Linked DNA regions of Homo sapiens: region 2 is linked to region 1. The links come from fine-mapping of genetic effects on gene expression. A gene starts in region 1. The other region holds a variant in brackets. All regions are shown on one strand. Distances are between the middles of the regions.

The links.
Region 2: its variant is fine-mapped to the expression of NCKAP5L in whole blood (TOPMed, PIP 0.97).

Annotation. Positions count from the first base shown.
Region 1 is chr12:49,826,043-49,831,411 of GRCh38, forward strand. It overlaps NCKAP5L (NCK associated protein 5 like), which reads right to left and starts at 2,371. Exons shown (of 13, transcript NM_001037806.4): 1 at 2,280-2,371. BCDIN3D-AS1 (BCDIN3D antisense RNA 1) reads left to right here and starts at 2,501. Exons shown (of 3, transcript NR_027501.1): 1 at 2,501-2,702; 2 at 2,893-3,041. RefSeq lists enhancers at 1-636, 1,780-1,829, 2,245-2,823, 2,824-3,402 and a silencer at 2,090-2,499.
Region 2 is chr12:49,787,324-49,792,692 of GRCh38, forward strand. NCKAP5L (NCK associated protein 5 like) reads right to left here. Exons shown (of 13, transcript NM_001037806.4): 11 at 5,355-5,369; 12 at 5,123-5,265; 13 at 3,829-4,728. The coding sequence ends at 4,516. Among named protein-coding and RNA genes, the nearest start is that of NCKAP5L, 38 kb to the right of the region's middle. RefSeq lists an enhancer at 3,424-4,266. The variant T/C (reference allele first, on the strand shown) is at 3,186.

The sequences.
Region 1 (5,369 bases):
TAGCAGGGCCTGGGAGGCTGGCTGGGCTGGATGAGGGCGGTGGGGAAGAATCCTTAGCCCCTTGCCTGGGACCTGGGGGTGTGAGTACAGCAGTGAGGTGGGCAGGGCTGGGGGTGGGATGGGCAAAAGCAGTGGGGCCCTCCTTGCCCTCCTCCTATAAGAGGGCGGGTGGGTGAGTATGTTGTGCTCCCTGGCCCAGATCCTAAAACAAGTCCCAACAGCTGAGACGTAAACTGTCTCCTGGGAATCTGCTTACCCTGCTGGCCCTTGGCTGCCTCCTCCTCTCTCAGCTCCTCTTCAAAGGGCCAGGATGTCTCACCACAGGCGTGATGGGTGGGCCAAACCCAAGCCAGCAGGAGCAGGAGTTCATATCCCAAGGCACCAGGGGTGTGTGGGACAAGGTCTACTCTCAGGCTTAGAATAAGGGAATCTGTTCTCTCTACCCAGGGTTCTAATCCTAACTAATTGCAATTTAAAGCACACCCAACACTTTAGCTCCCTCTAAATGGAACCATTCTGCCAGAGGACCTTTCTCCCCTATAGATTCACCCATCAGTGGAACCATTCAATGTCAAAAAGTGGAAGGGAATATTAGAGCTATCTAGTCCAACTACTGACATTTAAAGATGGGGAAACTGAGCCCCAGAGAGCAAACTGTCTTGGCCAAGGTCATACAGCAAGCTAGGAAAAGTAGGGACCAGAGCTTCTGACTCTGTCTTTATTGATACCCGCTTGCTCCCCAAACACTTAGGTCTTCACCGGCCTATCATGAAGATCCTTCTTCCCTGCCAACCACAGCACCTGCCCCTCCAGGTCCTCACTCTCTTCGTGAGGGCCAGAGCTGGAGAAAGATGCTGGAGGGACAAAGCCACCTCATGCACAGACCATAGACTTTGAAAACAAGCTTGAACATGGGAATATCTCCCCGGAAAGGAATACACACGGTTTCTTTGGGATAGGAAACCCACTAATCCCAGGTTGTTTTTAGGAAGATGGGGGGACCAATTTGAGAAGTGAATTTTCCTATCACACAAGGAGTCTCAGAGAGCCAGATGGCGTAATGTCTGCAAGGGAGGGTCTGCAACAAGGCAAATGGGCTATGTTCATTTTCCCCGAAAGTACTGACCACAAAACGGTAAGGCATTGACACTCTTTCTACTGCTCCCCAGGCCACCCCTGCCCGGGCCACTTCCTCTGGCTGACCATTGTGCTTAAGAAGGAGGACCCATGACAGACGCGGAGAAGTGGGAGGGAGGGATTGCCTCTACAGCCAGAGAACTCCTTAGCCCAAGACCCCCAGCTCCTCAGCAAGGCAGGCCTTTAAGAAGTAGCAGCTGGACAGACTAAGTGGACTCAGCTGATCCAGCCCTGGGATGCCTGGAAAACCAGGCCTGTGGGAGGTGAGGGCCCTCTGTGCCCTTGGGGCCGTGCCAGGACTGGAGATAACGCGGGACCTTGGGCCCAGGACAGGGAGAGGGGAGCTAGGATCCGGGCAGCCGCTTTCTTAGTTGGGCTAAGCCAGGGAAGCGTCGGGCACAGATGAATTCTCTGCATTCTTCTGGCACCGCAGCCAGCACCCAGAGGGCCTTTTCTGCAGACGCTGCCCTGTCCCTGCTCCCTGCCCAACCAACCCTTCTCCCTCCCTTAGCTTCTCTTCAGCGTGCAGCCCACCAGGTCCTTCCTCCTTCCCGCAGCCCCTCAAAGCCTTTGAAGGGGCTGTTCTCTAGGAGACCCGGTCTTTCCGCCTCTCCCCGCCTTCCCCAGGCCCTACCGCCCCAGGCCACGGGGAATGGGAAGGAGTGCGAAAGGGAGCCCCAGGCTCGTCTCCGCGCCTGCGCTTTGGGGAGAGAGCCCCTCCCCCCGCAATAACCCGGCACCGCTAAGCGGCACCCGGACGGTGGGATGCGGGTTGGGTGGGGTGAGCAGCTGGGGCAAGGTCAGTGCTTTCAAAGAGGGAGGGGAGCCCGGCCCCCGGAACATCCCCCACTCCCGAAAGTTTCCCTTCCGGGGCCACGGAGTGTGCGCGAGGATGGCGCGGGGGGCGGGAGGGGGTGGGGTGGGGGTGCACAGAGTCGCAGCCGGACCCCCGAGGAGGGTGCGGCTGGAGGGAGGGACGGAGGGGCGGGCAGCAGGGTTTGGGCAGGAAGCCGCGACGCCCTCTCCGACTCTGTACTGCCACGAGAGCCTTACCCTCCACACCCCACTCCCCCCGGCCCGGAGCTACAGATCGCCCCCCCGCACTCGCCGCCCTTTCAATCCCAAGTAGACCCAGAACTCACCGAAATCAGGTGTTGAGCTGGGCCAGGGCAGGCCGGATCCGCCAGGTCCATGGCCGCGGCTTGGGGGCGGGGGGCAGAGAAAGGGGGGTGCCGGAGCCGCCTCCTGATGTCAAGGCTTTAAAGGGGCCGGGGAGCCCCGCCCCTGGCCCTGACCCCGCCTCCCTCCTCCCTAGCAGCCAATCCACGTTCAGCCTGGATGCGCGCCCCTCCCAGCCCCCTCCAGATGTTCCCAGGACGCGAGCTAAGTCTGCCCGGCCGGCGCGCGCCGCTTCCGCTTTGGTGGGAAGGACCTCCCTTCCCCCTTATAGAAACACTTTCTCCAGGCCGGGCCGGGCTTGGTAAACCTCAGCCGTGCCTGGGTAGAGGACGCCGGGCTGGGCCGAGCGGGGGTGGAATGAGGGCGTCTAGAACAGAGAAAACTAAGTAGGTGCGCGCGGGCCCACAGGCATGCGCGTTTGCTTCTGTGGGGCTGGGCGTGCACGTGTATGTGTGGTTGTGAGCGTCGGTGTTTGTAATTTGCTTTTCTGCATACGTGTTGGGTGTAAATCCATGGGGGAAAGGCTTGAGTGCCTCTTTGGCCTTAAATGCTCCCGCCTCTCTCTTCCTTCTCCAGGATGGGGTCGTCCCCCCAGTAATCTGGAAAACAGTTACAGCAACAGGCTCCTCTCATCAGACGGCAGTGCTGGTCGTTTCCTCACTGGTTTGCGGGGAAGGCTGGGCAGAAAAAGGATGCAACCTTGTTCTCAACCACTTGCTATCTCGGTGAGGATGAGGAAAAGCAAACAGCCCATCCAGGCCCCTGCAGAGCCTCAGAGCTTCAATATCATTCCCATTAGTCCTTAATTAAACACCTATTTGCCCTTGCCTAAATACCGTATAACCCTCACAGCCTGCATTGTAGTGACTGCCCCAGAAATGTAGGTTCTCACCTGGGTTCTGCAGGGAAATACGAAGGAATCCCTAGGTACAGTCTCCGCCTACTTCATTAAAATTTCTTTTGTTGCGAGTATACAAAGGATGCAGCTTAGAGTATCATATTAGTCCAATAAAGGAACATAAAAAGTAAGGCAAGTTAGGGTGCTCAGATTGGCTAGGATTAAGAGTTCTTTTCTGAAGGAGGTTTATTTAAATACGGAATTTGAAGGGCAGAGAGAGCTTGAGTAGGGTCCAGGCAGGGTAAAGGCCACAAGGAGATTCAGATAGGAAAGAGCAAATTATCTGCGTGGGACCGTGAGCAGATCACCGTGGTACGTTGGGAAGTGGGAGAAATTAATGGAGGAGGTTTCTTATGGAGGAGAGCAGAATAAGGATATGGATGTGACAAGACATAAGATAAAGAAGTCATTTTGGGTTCTTGAGCATAGAGGTAGTTTGATGAAAAGAGTGCCCAAGGACAGCTATTACTGGAACCTAAAAGATGTCTTGATGGGTACCCCCACCAGCTTTCTCATTTTTTTGCTTAAAAAATATTTTATTCTTTTCTTTTCTCTGAGATGGAGTCTCACTCTGTCCCAGGTTGGACGGAGTGCAGTGGCACAATCTCTGCTCACTGCAACCTCCACCTCCTGATTTCAGGTGATTCTCCTGCCTCAGCCTCCCAAGTAGCTGGTATTATAAGAGTGCACCACCACACCTGGCTAATTTTTGTATTTTTAGTAGAGACGGAGGCTTCACCATGTTGGCCAGGCTGGTCTCGAACTCCTGACCTCAGGTGATTTGCCCACCTCGGCCTCCCAAAGTGCTAGGATTATAGATGTGAGCCACCATGCCCGGCCCTTAAATTATTCTTAACGTGCAATAAAATGCACACATCTTAGGTGCTTTGTTTGGTGAATTTCAAAATATACACCTATGTAATTAACACCCAAAACAAGATACTGAACCACCACCCTATAAAGTTCCCTCATGCCCCTTTATAGTTGATCACCCCACACCCACCACCACCCTCCCCTGGCAACTTCCTGAATTATAGCACCATAGATTTGTCTGCATTTGTATTTCACATATATGGAGCTTTACAGTATGTACTTGTGTCTGTATCCTTTAGCTTAGTAATGTTTTTGAGATCCATCCATGTGTATCAGTAATCTGTTCTTTTTTATTGCTGAGTATTATTCCATTGCATGAATATATCACAATGTGTTTATCCATTCTTCAATTGATGGATATTTGGGTATTTCCAGTTGGGGTTATGATGAATATGGCTGCTATTAACATTCTGGTGCAAATATTTTCATAGACATGTTTTCATTTCTCCTTTTCACCTTATTTCTTGATGATAGTGGCATCTTCGGAAGCCTACAGCATTGTGAATTCTTATTCAATCATCTAACATTGAATAGGGATCAGTGGGCTAGTTCTGGGATTACAACAAAAAGTAGACATGGTCCTTTCCTCAAAGGGCTTGAAAGTCCAATAAAACTCCATGTACCTGTTGTATTCCTAATATTGCCTTGTATTCCTAATTCTGCCTTGAGGTAGAAAACCTTAAAAGTCTGCCAGGCATTTCTAACTACTTTTGGATGTTTCCAAATAACTGAATTATTGGAAGTAAACAGAACATCAAGATGATAATTTACTTTCCTTTTTTTTTTTTTTTTTTTTGAGACAGAGTCTTGCTCTGTCACCCAGACTGGAGTGTAGCAGCACAATCTCGGCTCACTGCAAGGTCTGCCTTCCAAGAGGCAATTCTCTTGCCTCTTGCAATTCTCAAGCAATTCTCCTGCCTCACCCTCCCAAGTAGCTGAGATTACAGGCGTGCGCCACCACACCCAGCTAATTTTTGTATTTTTAGTAGAAATGAGGTTTCACCAAGTTGTCCAGGCTGGTCTTGAACTCCTGACCTCAAGTGATCTGCCCACTTCAGCCTCCCAAAGTGCTGGGATTACAGGTGTGAGCCTCTGTGCCCAGCCAATATTTTACTTTTCATTTAGATGTTTACTCTTGTTTAATAAACAGCCAGAACATCTGTATTTGTCAGAGCAAGTACCTGGCTCTCTCCTTCCTTAAAGGCTATTGTGCACTTGATAATTTCAGCATTCAGATTTTGGCAGATTCTCTATGCTTCACAAACCTTCATCCTCACTGACA
Region 2 (5,369 bases), 39 kb before region 1:
CCTGACCTCGTGATCCACCTGCCTCAGCCTCCCAAAGTGCTAGGATTACAGGCGTGAGCCACCTCACCGGCCTCTTTTCAATTTCTGACACTTTATAATTGTATGTACTTATGGGGTACAATGTGATGTTTTTGCATACATGGATACATTGTATAGTGATCAAATCAGGGTATTTAGGACAGCCATCTCATTATGAATTTGTAATTTTTTTGTGGTGAGAACATTCAAAACCCTCTCTTCTATTTTGTTAATAATATACCATACTTTCTTGTTAACCATTGTCACTCTACTGTGCAATAGAACACCAGAACTTATTCCTCCTATCTAGTTTTGTACCTCCAAACAACCTCTCCTCAACCTCCTCTCCTCCACTGGCTCTGCAACCTCTGGTAACCACTGATCTGCTCTATACTTCCATAAGATCGGCTTTTTCTTTTTCTTTTTTTTAAGATTCCACGTATCAGTGAGAACATGTGGTATTTGTCTTTTTGTGTCTGACTTATTTCACTTAACATAATGTTCAGGTTCAAATAATTTGTTTCAAATGACAGGATATCATTCTTTTTCATTGCTGAATAGTATTCCACTGTGTAGATATACCACATTTTATCCATTCATCCATTGCTGGCATTTAGGTTGACTTCAATTCTTGGCTATTGTGAACAGTGCTGCAATAAACAAGGGAGTACAGATACCTCCATTTACCCACTGGTGGGATTGCTGGATCATATAGTGCTCTACTTTTAATTTTTTGAGGAACCTCCACAGTTTTCCTTAATAGAGGTACTAATTTACATTCCCACCAACAGTGTGTAAGGGTTCTATTTTCTCTACATCCTCACCAACACTTGTTTTCTTTTGTCTTTTTGATAAGAGCTATTCTAACTAGAGTGAGGTGGTATTTCATTGCAGTTTTGATTTGCATTTCCCTGATAATTAGTTATAACATTCAATTTCAATTCCTTTTTTTAAAAACCATGAACATATACTCTTTTTTTTTTTTTTGAGACAGAGTTTTGCTTTTGTTGCCCAGTCTGGAGGGCAATGGTGCAATCTTGGCTCACTGCAACCTCCGCCTCCCAAGTTCAAGTGATTCTCCTGCTTCAGCCTCCCGAATAGCTGGGATTCCAGGCATGTGCCATCACGCCTGGCTAATTTTGTATTTTTTAGTAGAGATGGGGTTTCTCCATGTTGGTCAGGCTGGTTTCGAACTCCTGACCTCAGGTGATCCACCCGCCTCGGCCTCCTAAAGTGCTGGGATTACATGCATGAGCCATTGTGCCTGGGGAACATATACTTCTATAATTTCTATTCCTTTAACAATTAAAAACCTTTTAAGGGGCCAGACACGGTGGTTCACACCTGTAATCCCAGCACTTTGGGAGGCCGAGGTGGGCAGATCACGAGGTCAGGAGATTGAGACCATTCTGGCTAAGATGGTGAAACTCCACCTCTGCTAAAAATACAAAAAATTAGCCGGGTGTGGTGGCAGGAGCCTGTAGTCCTGCCTGGGTGACAGAGAGAGACTCCGTCTCAAAAAAATAAAAAAAAAAGTTTTAAACGAGAAACAATTATTCTCTGCAGCAAACTCTAGATATATACCCTCATTCTGTAATCCTGTGTGAGTTAGTTCAAGCATATAAATAAATTACTTAAGGCCACATGAATTTGAAGTTAATACAGGTGAGCATTTCTATAGTCTCGGGAAAAAATTTTTTTTAACTTTTTTTTTTTTGAGACGGAGTCTCACTCTGTCGCCCAGGCTGGAGTGCAGTGGCGCGATCTTGGCTCACTGCAAGGCCCGCCTCCTGGGTTCAAGCAATTCTTCTGCCTCAGCCTCTGGAGTAACTGGGACTACAGGCGCGTGCCACCACGCCTGGCTAGTTTTTTGTATTTTTAGTAGAGACAGGGTTTCACTGTGTTAACCAGGATGGTATAGATCTCCTGACCTCGTGATCCACCCACCTCAGCCTCCCAAAGTGCTGGGATTACAGGCGTGAGCCACTGCACCCGGCCTTAAAACTTTTTTTGATAAAGAAAACAAAACAGGTTGGATGCAGTGGCTCACACCTGTAATCCCAGAACTTGGAGAGGCCAGGAGTTTGAGACCAGCCTGGGCAACATAGTGAGACCCCATCTCTACAAAAAAAAATTTTTTTTTTAAAGAAAACAAAGCACACTATTTGTAGAAATCTACAAAAGGGTAAAGAAGGAAAAAAAAACCCACTGGCTACCCAGAGAAAACTTGAGTTAATGTTTTTGGGACATTTCCTGCAAAAGGCAAAGTGCCCAGTGAAGTTGAACCTGAAGCCTTGTCATAATCTTTTGCTGATGCCTTGATGCCATTTTGGGGGATGGGGGAGGTGGCCTGGCAGTTTTGTCTTCCTTTGTTTGGAAAATCCAGCAGAATGGGTCTTGCACATTGCAAAGGCAAACATTCACCTATTATTCTTGGAGAAAACAGTGAATTTACCTGAATTCTGCAGGAAGATGTTGCAAACTGAGATATGAAGTGTTCTGCCTTAGTAAGGATCAAATGGTCTTTTAGCCTAACCTTTCTTTGAAGTGCAAGAAATTGATTCCCCAGGAGTGTCTTTAAACTCAACTGCATGTCCTCCTCCACAGAATCATTTTAGATAAAATACTGGGTCTGTGTGAAGGGCACACAATTATGTAGGCTGTGGGGTGGCTCATCTGGATCCAGGGTCTCTTAGCAGAATGCTGGGGGATTTAGGAAGTTTCCCACCATGGAACAGTTGGTAGGCAATGGCTGCCTCCAGGCGTCAGGTGTGACTGATGCCACCTGCCCTGCCTTGGTCAGTCAGCCCACATTGCCCTGGAAACCAAGGTGACGCCTTGTATTTGCAAACACCAGAGAATAAAGCCTAGGCAGATGGATCAGACCCTGGTGGTAAGAATGCGGATGGACCCTCTGGTCTCAGCTTGAAAGAGGTGGAGTCCTGCATCAAACCTACTATGCCAAACTCCTTCCCCAGAAGGAAATAGGAGAAATATCCTGCAGGCAAACAATTCTGTTCTAACTAGGAAATGAGGTAATCTACCAAGTTCAAGCAGAGAAGAGGGCTTGAAAAACCAAGAAATAAAAAGTGGGAAGGAGGTAGACCTCTTGAAGCCCACCTGGCAAGAAGCAGATTTACAGCTTGGTAATATTATGCTTAAGCCCA[T/C]AAAAGCAGAAAAGATAGGACAGTGGGATAGGAATCTGGAAGTAGAAGACAAGAGGTAAGAAAATGGGATACTGACTTAAAAAAAAAAAAAAAAACCCAGACATCTGACTTGACACTCTCCGTCTTGTTAATTTCTTCAATGATGATATTAACTAAGAAGGGGTAGGAAGAGAATTGGGGAAGGGGTAGGAAGAGGAGAATGCTGAGAAGAAAGTCTGGCTGATGGGACCAGCTCGTCTGGATTAACTTTCTAATCTTCTATAGAGGAGGAAAACCAAGGTCTGGAGAAGAGATGCAACTCTACTCAGAGTCTGCATGTCCCCCCCAGCCTGGGACACGTGGGGCCTGAGTGCATGTCCACAGCCATCTTCCCCAGCTCCCTCTCCAAGGGGCCACCCAGCCTCGCGCCGTGCCCAAGCCCTGGCCCAGGAGAATCTCTCCGAGCCCAGATACCCTTCCGGGCCTAAGCAGGCCCTACTCTCCCAACCCTCAGTTACCTTCTGGGATGACTCCAGCCAGTTGCCCTGGTGAGGGGGCTGTGTCACAAGGGGGCCTGGGGTCCCTCAACCTGGCACCCATGCAGTGTCCCCCGACCTGGCCTGCCTGAGTCCTCCCACACAACAAGCCGACTCAGGGGCAGGGAGGGGGCCTCCACATTTTATTAGGGATACGGCAGAAGCAGAGGCAGGAAGCAGAGCAGCCGCATTTTAAACAACACATAAATTAACCGCAGTGCGGGGCTGGGGGCTGGGGGCTGGGCCAGGCGCTTCAATATATAAAAACAACAACAAAAAAGACGGACGAACAGACCCCAAAGGCATGGGGCAGAGGAGGGCAGCACCATCCAGACAGCAGGGAGGACCAGGGCAGAGAGAGAAGGCAACTTGTCCCCCTGGCCCCCAAACTCCACCAGCACGGGGGCCTCCAGGAGGGCCTCGCGAGGGCTTCGGGGCAGAGGAGCAGCCGGGTTGGGCAGAGATGGCACGGCTGGTGGGCAGGAAGCCCAGCACCACAAGATGGCTCAGCCTGAAGTAGGGACTGGAGGGCTGCGACACAGTGGCCTTTAACCCCCAGTCCCTTCCAGGAAGAGCCTTACTCTGGGTGAGAGAAGGGACCAAGGGCGGGGTCTCTCCCTGAGCTGAGCACGGTCATCTCATCCGCCGAAGCAGTGGGTGGTGGGGTGTGCCAGGGACCCCCTTTTCACCTTCTTATCCACCTGCCTCCTTGGTCCCTTCAGGGAGGGGTCCCCGTCTCCGGGGGCTGGGCATGAAGAGAGCCGGTCCAGTCTGTGGTCCCCAGCTCCAGCGGGGCCGTGGCGTGGCGCAGCCCCTCAGCCCTGACTCCCACAAGAGGACAGCGAGTCGTAGAGTGAGTCACTGAGAGACTCCGAGGTCTCCAGCCCTGGGGGGCCCCCGCTGGCCACTCTGCCTTCCTCGGCCATGTCCGAAGTGCTGGGGGTGCGGCTACCCCCGAAAGGTGGGCCCTGGGGCGTAGGGGACGGGCGGCTGGGCTCCTGGCTTCGCTTCCGGTCCACGGGCAGGGCCTGGGAAAGGAGGGGCAGCTCGGGAGGAAGCTCCTCTCCACCTTTCGGCCCAGCCTCAGAGGCACTGAGCTCTGAGGGGCGTCTGTGCACCTGATGGGGGGCTGCTCCAGAGGGGGCCCAAGGTGGGGTATACTTCAGAGGAAACAGGCTGGAGGTACAACTGAGAACAGTCCTACAAGGTTCTGGGGAGGGACAGAAACCTTTCCCCACGAGAGAAGTGCAAGGAGGGCAGTGGGGAGGGCCGCTCACAGGGCATCCCAGGGGTCCTCCTCCCAGAGGGTGCAGCACTGAGACTGTGCGACACACAGGCCGTACCTTACTGGAGAAACTGGTCTCCCCACATCACTCCCTCCTGCTCCCGAGTCCTTTCCCTTTCCTCTGCTGCAATTCTCACCATGGGGGTCCTGGGCAGCCCCTCCAGTTGTCGGGGTGGGCACATGAGAGGGTCCGAGGAGCTGCCGGCTGCCCTAGTATTGGGGAAGGTCCAGTTCTTGGCCAGCTGGACAGGAGGGGTGGGGCCTGGGTCTTCACAGGGATCTGTCCAGGAACAAAGGGAAGGTGGATGGAGCTGCCTGGGCAGCTCCAGGATGCCCAGGGGCATCCCACCCTCCCACCTGGACACTCACCATCAGGACAGGTCT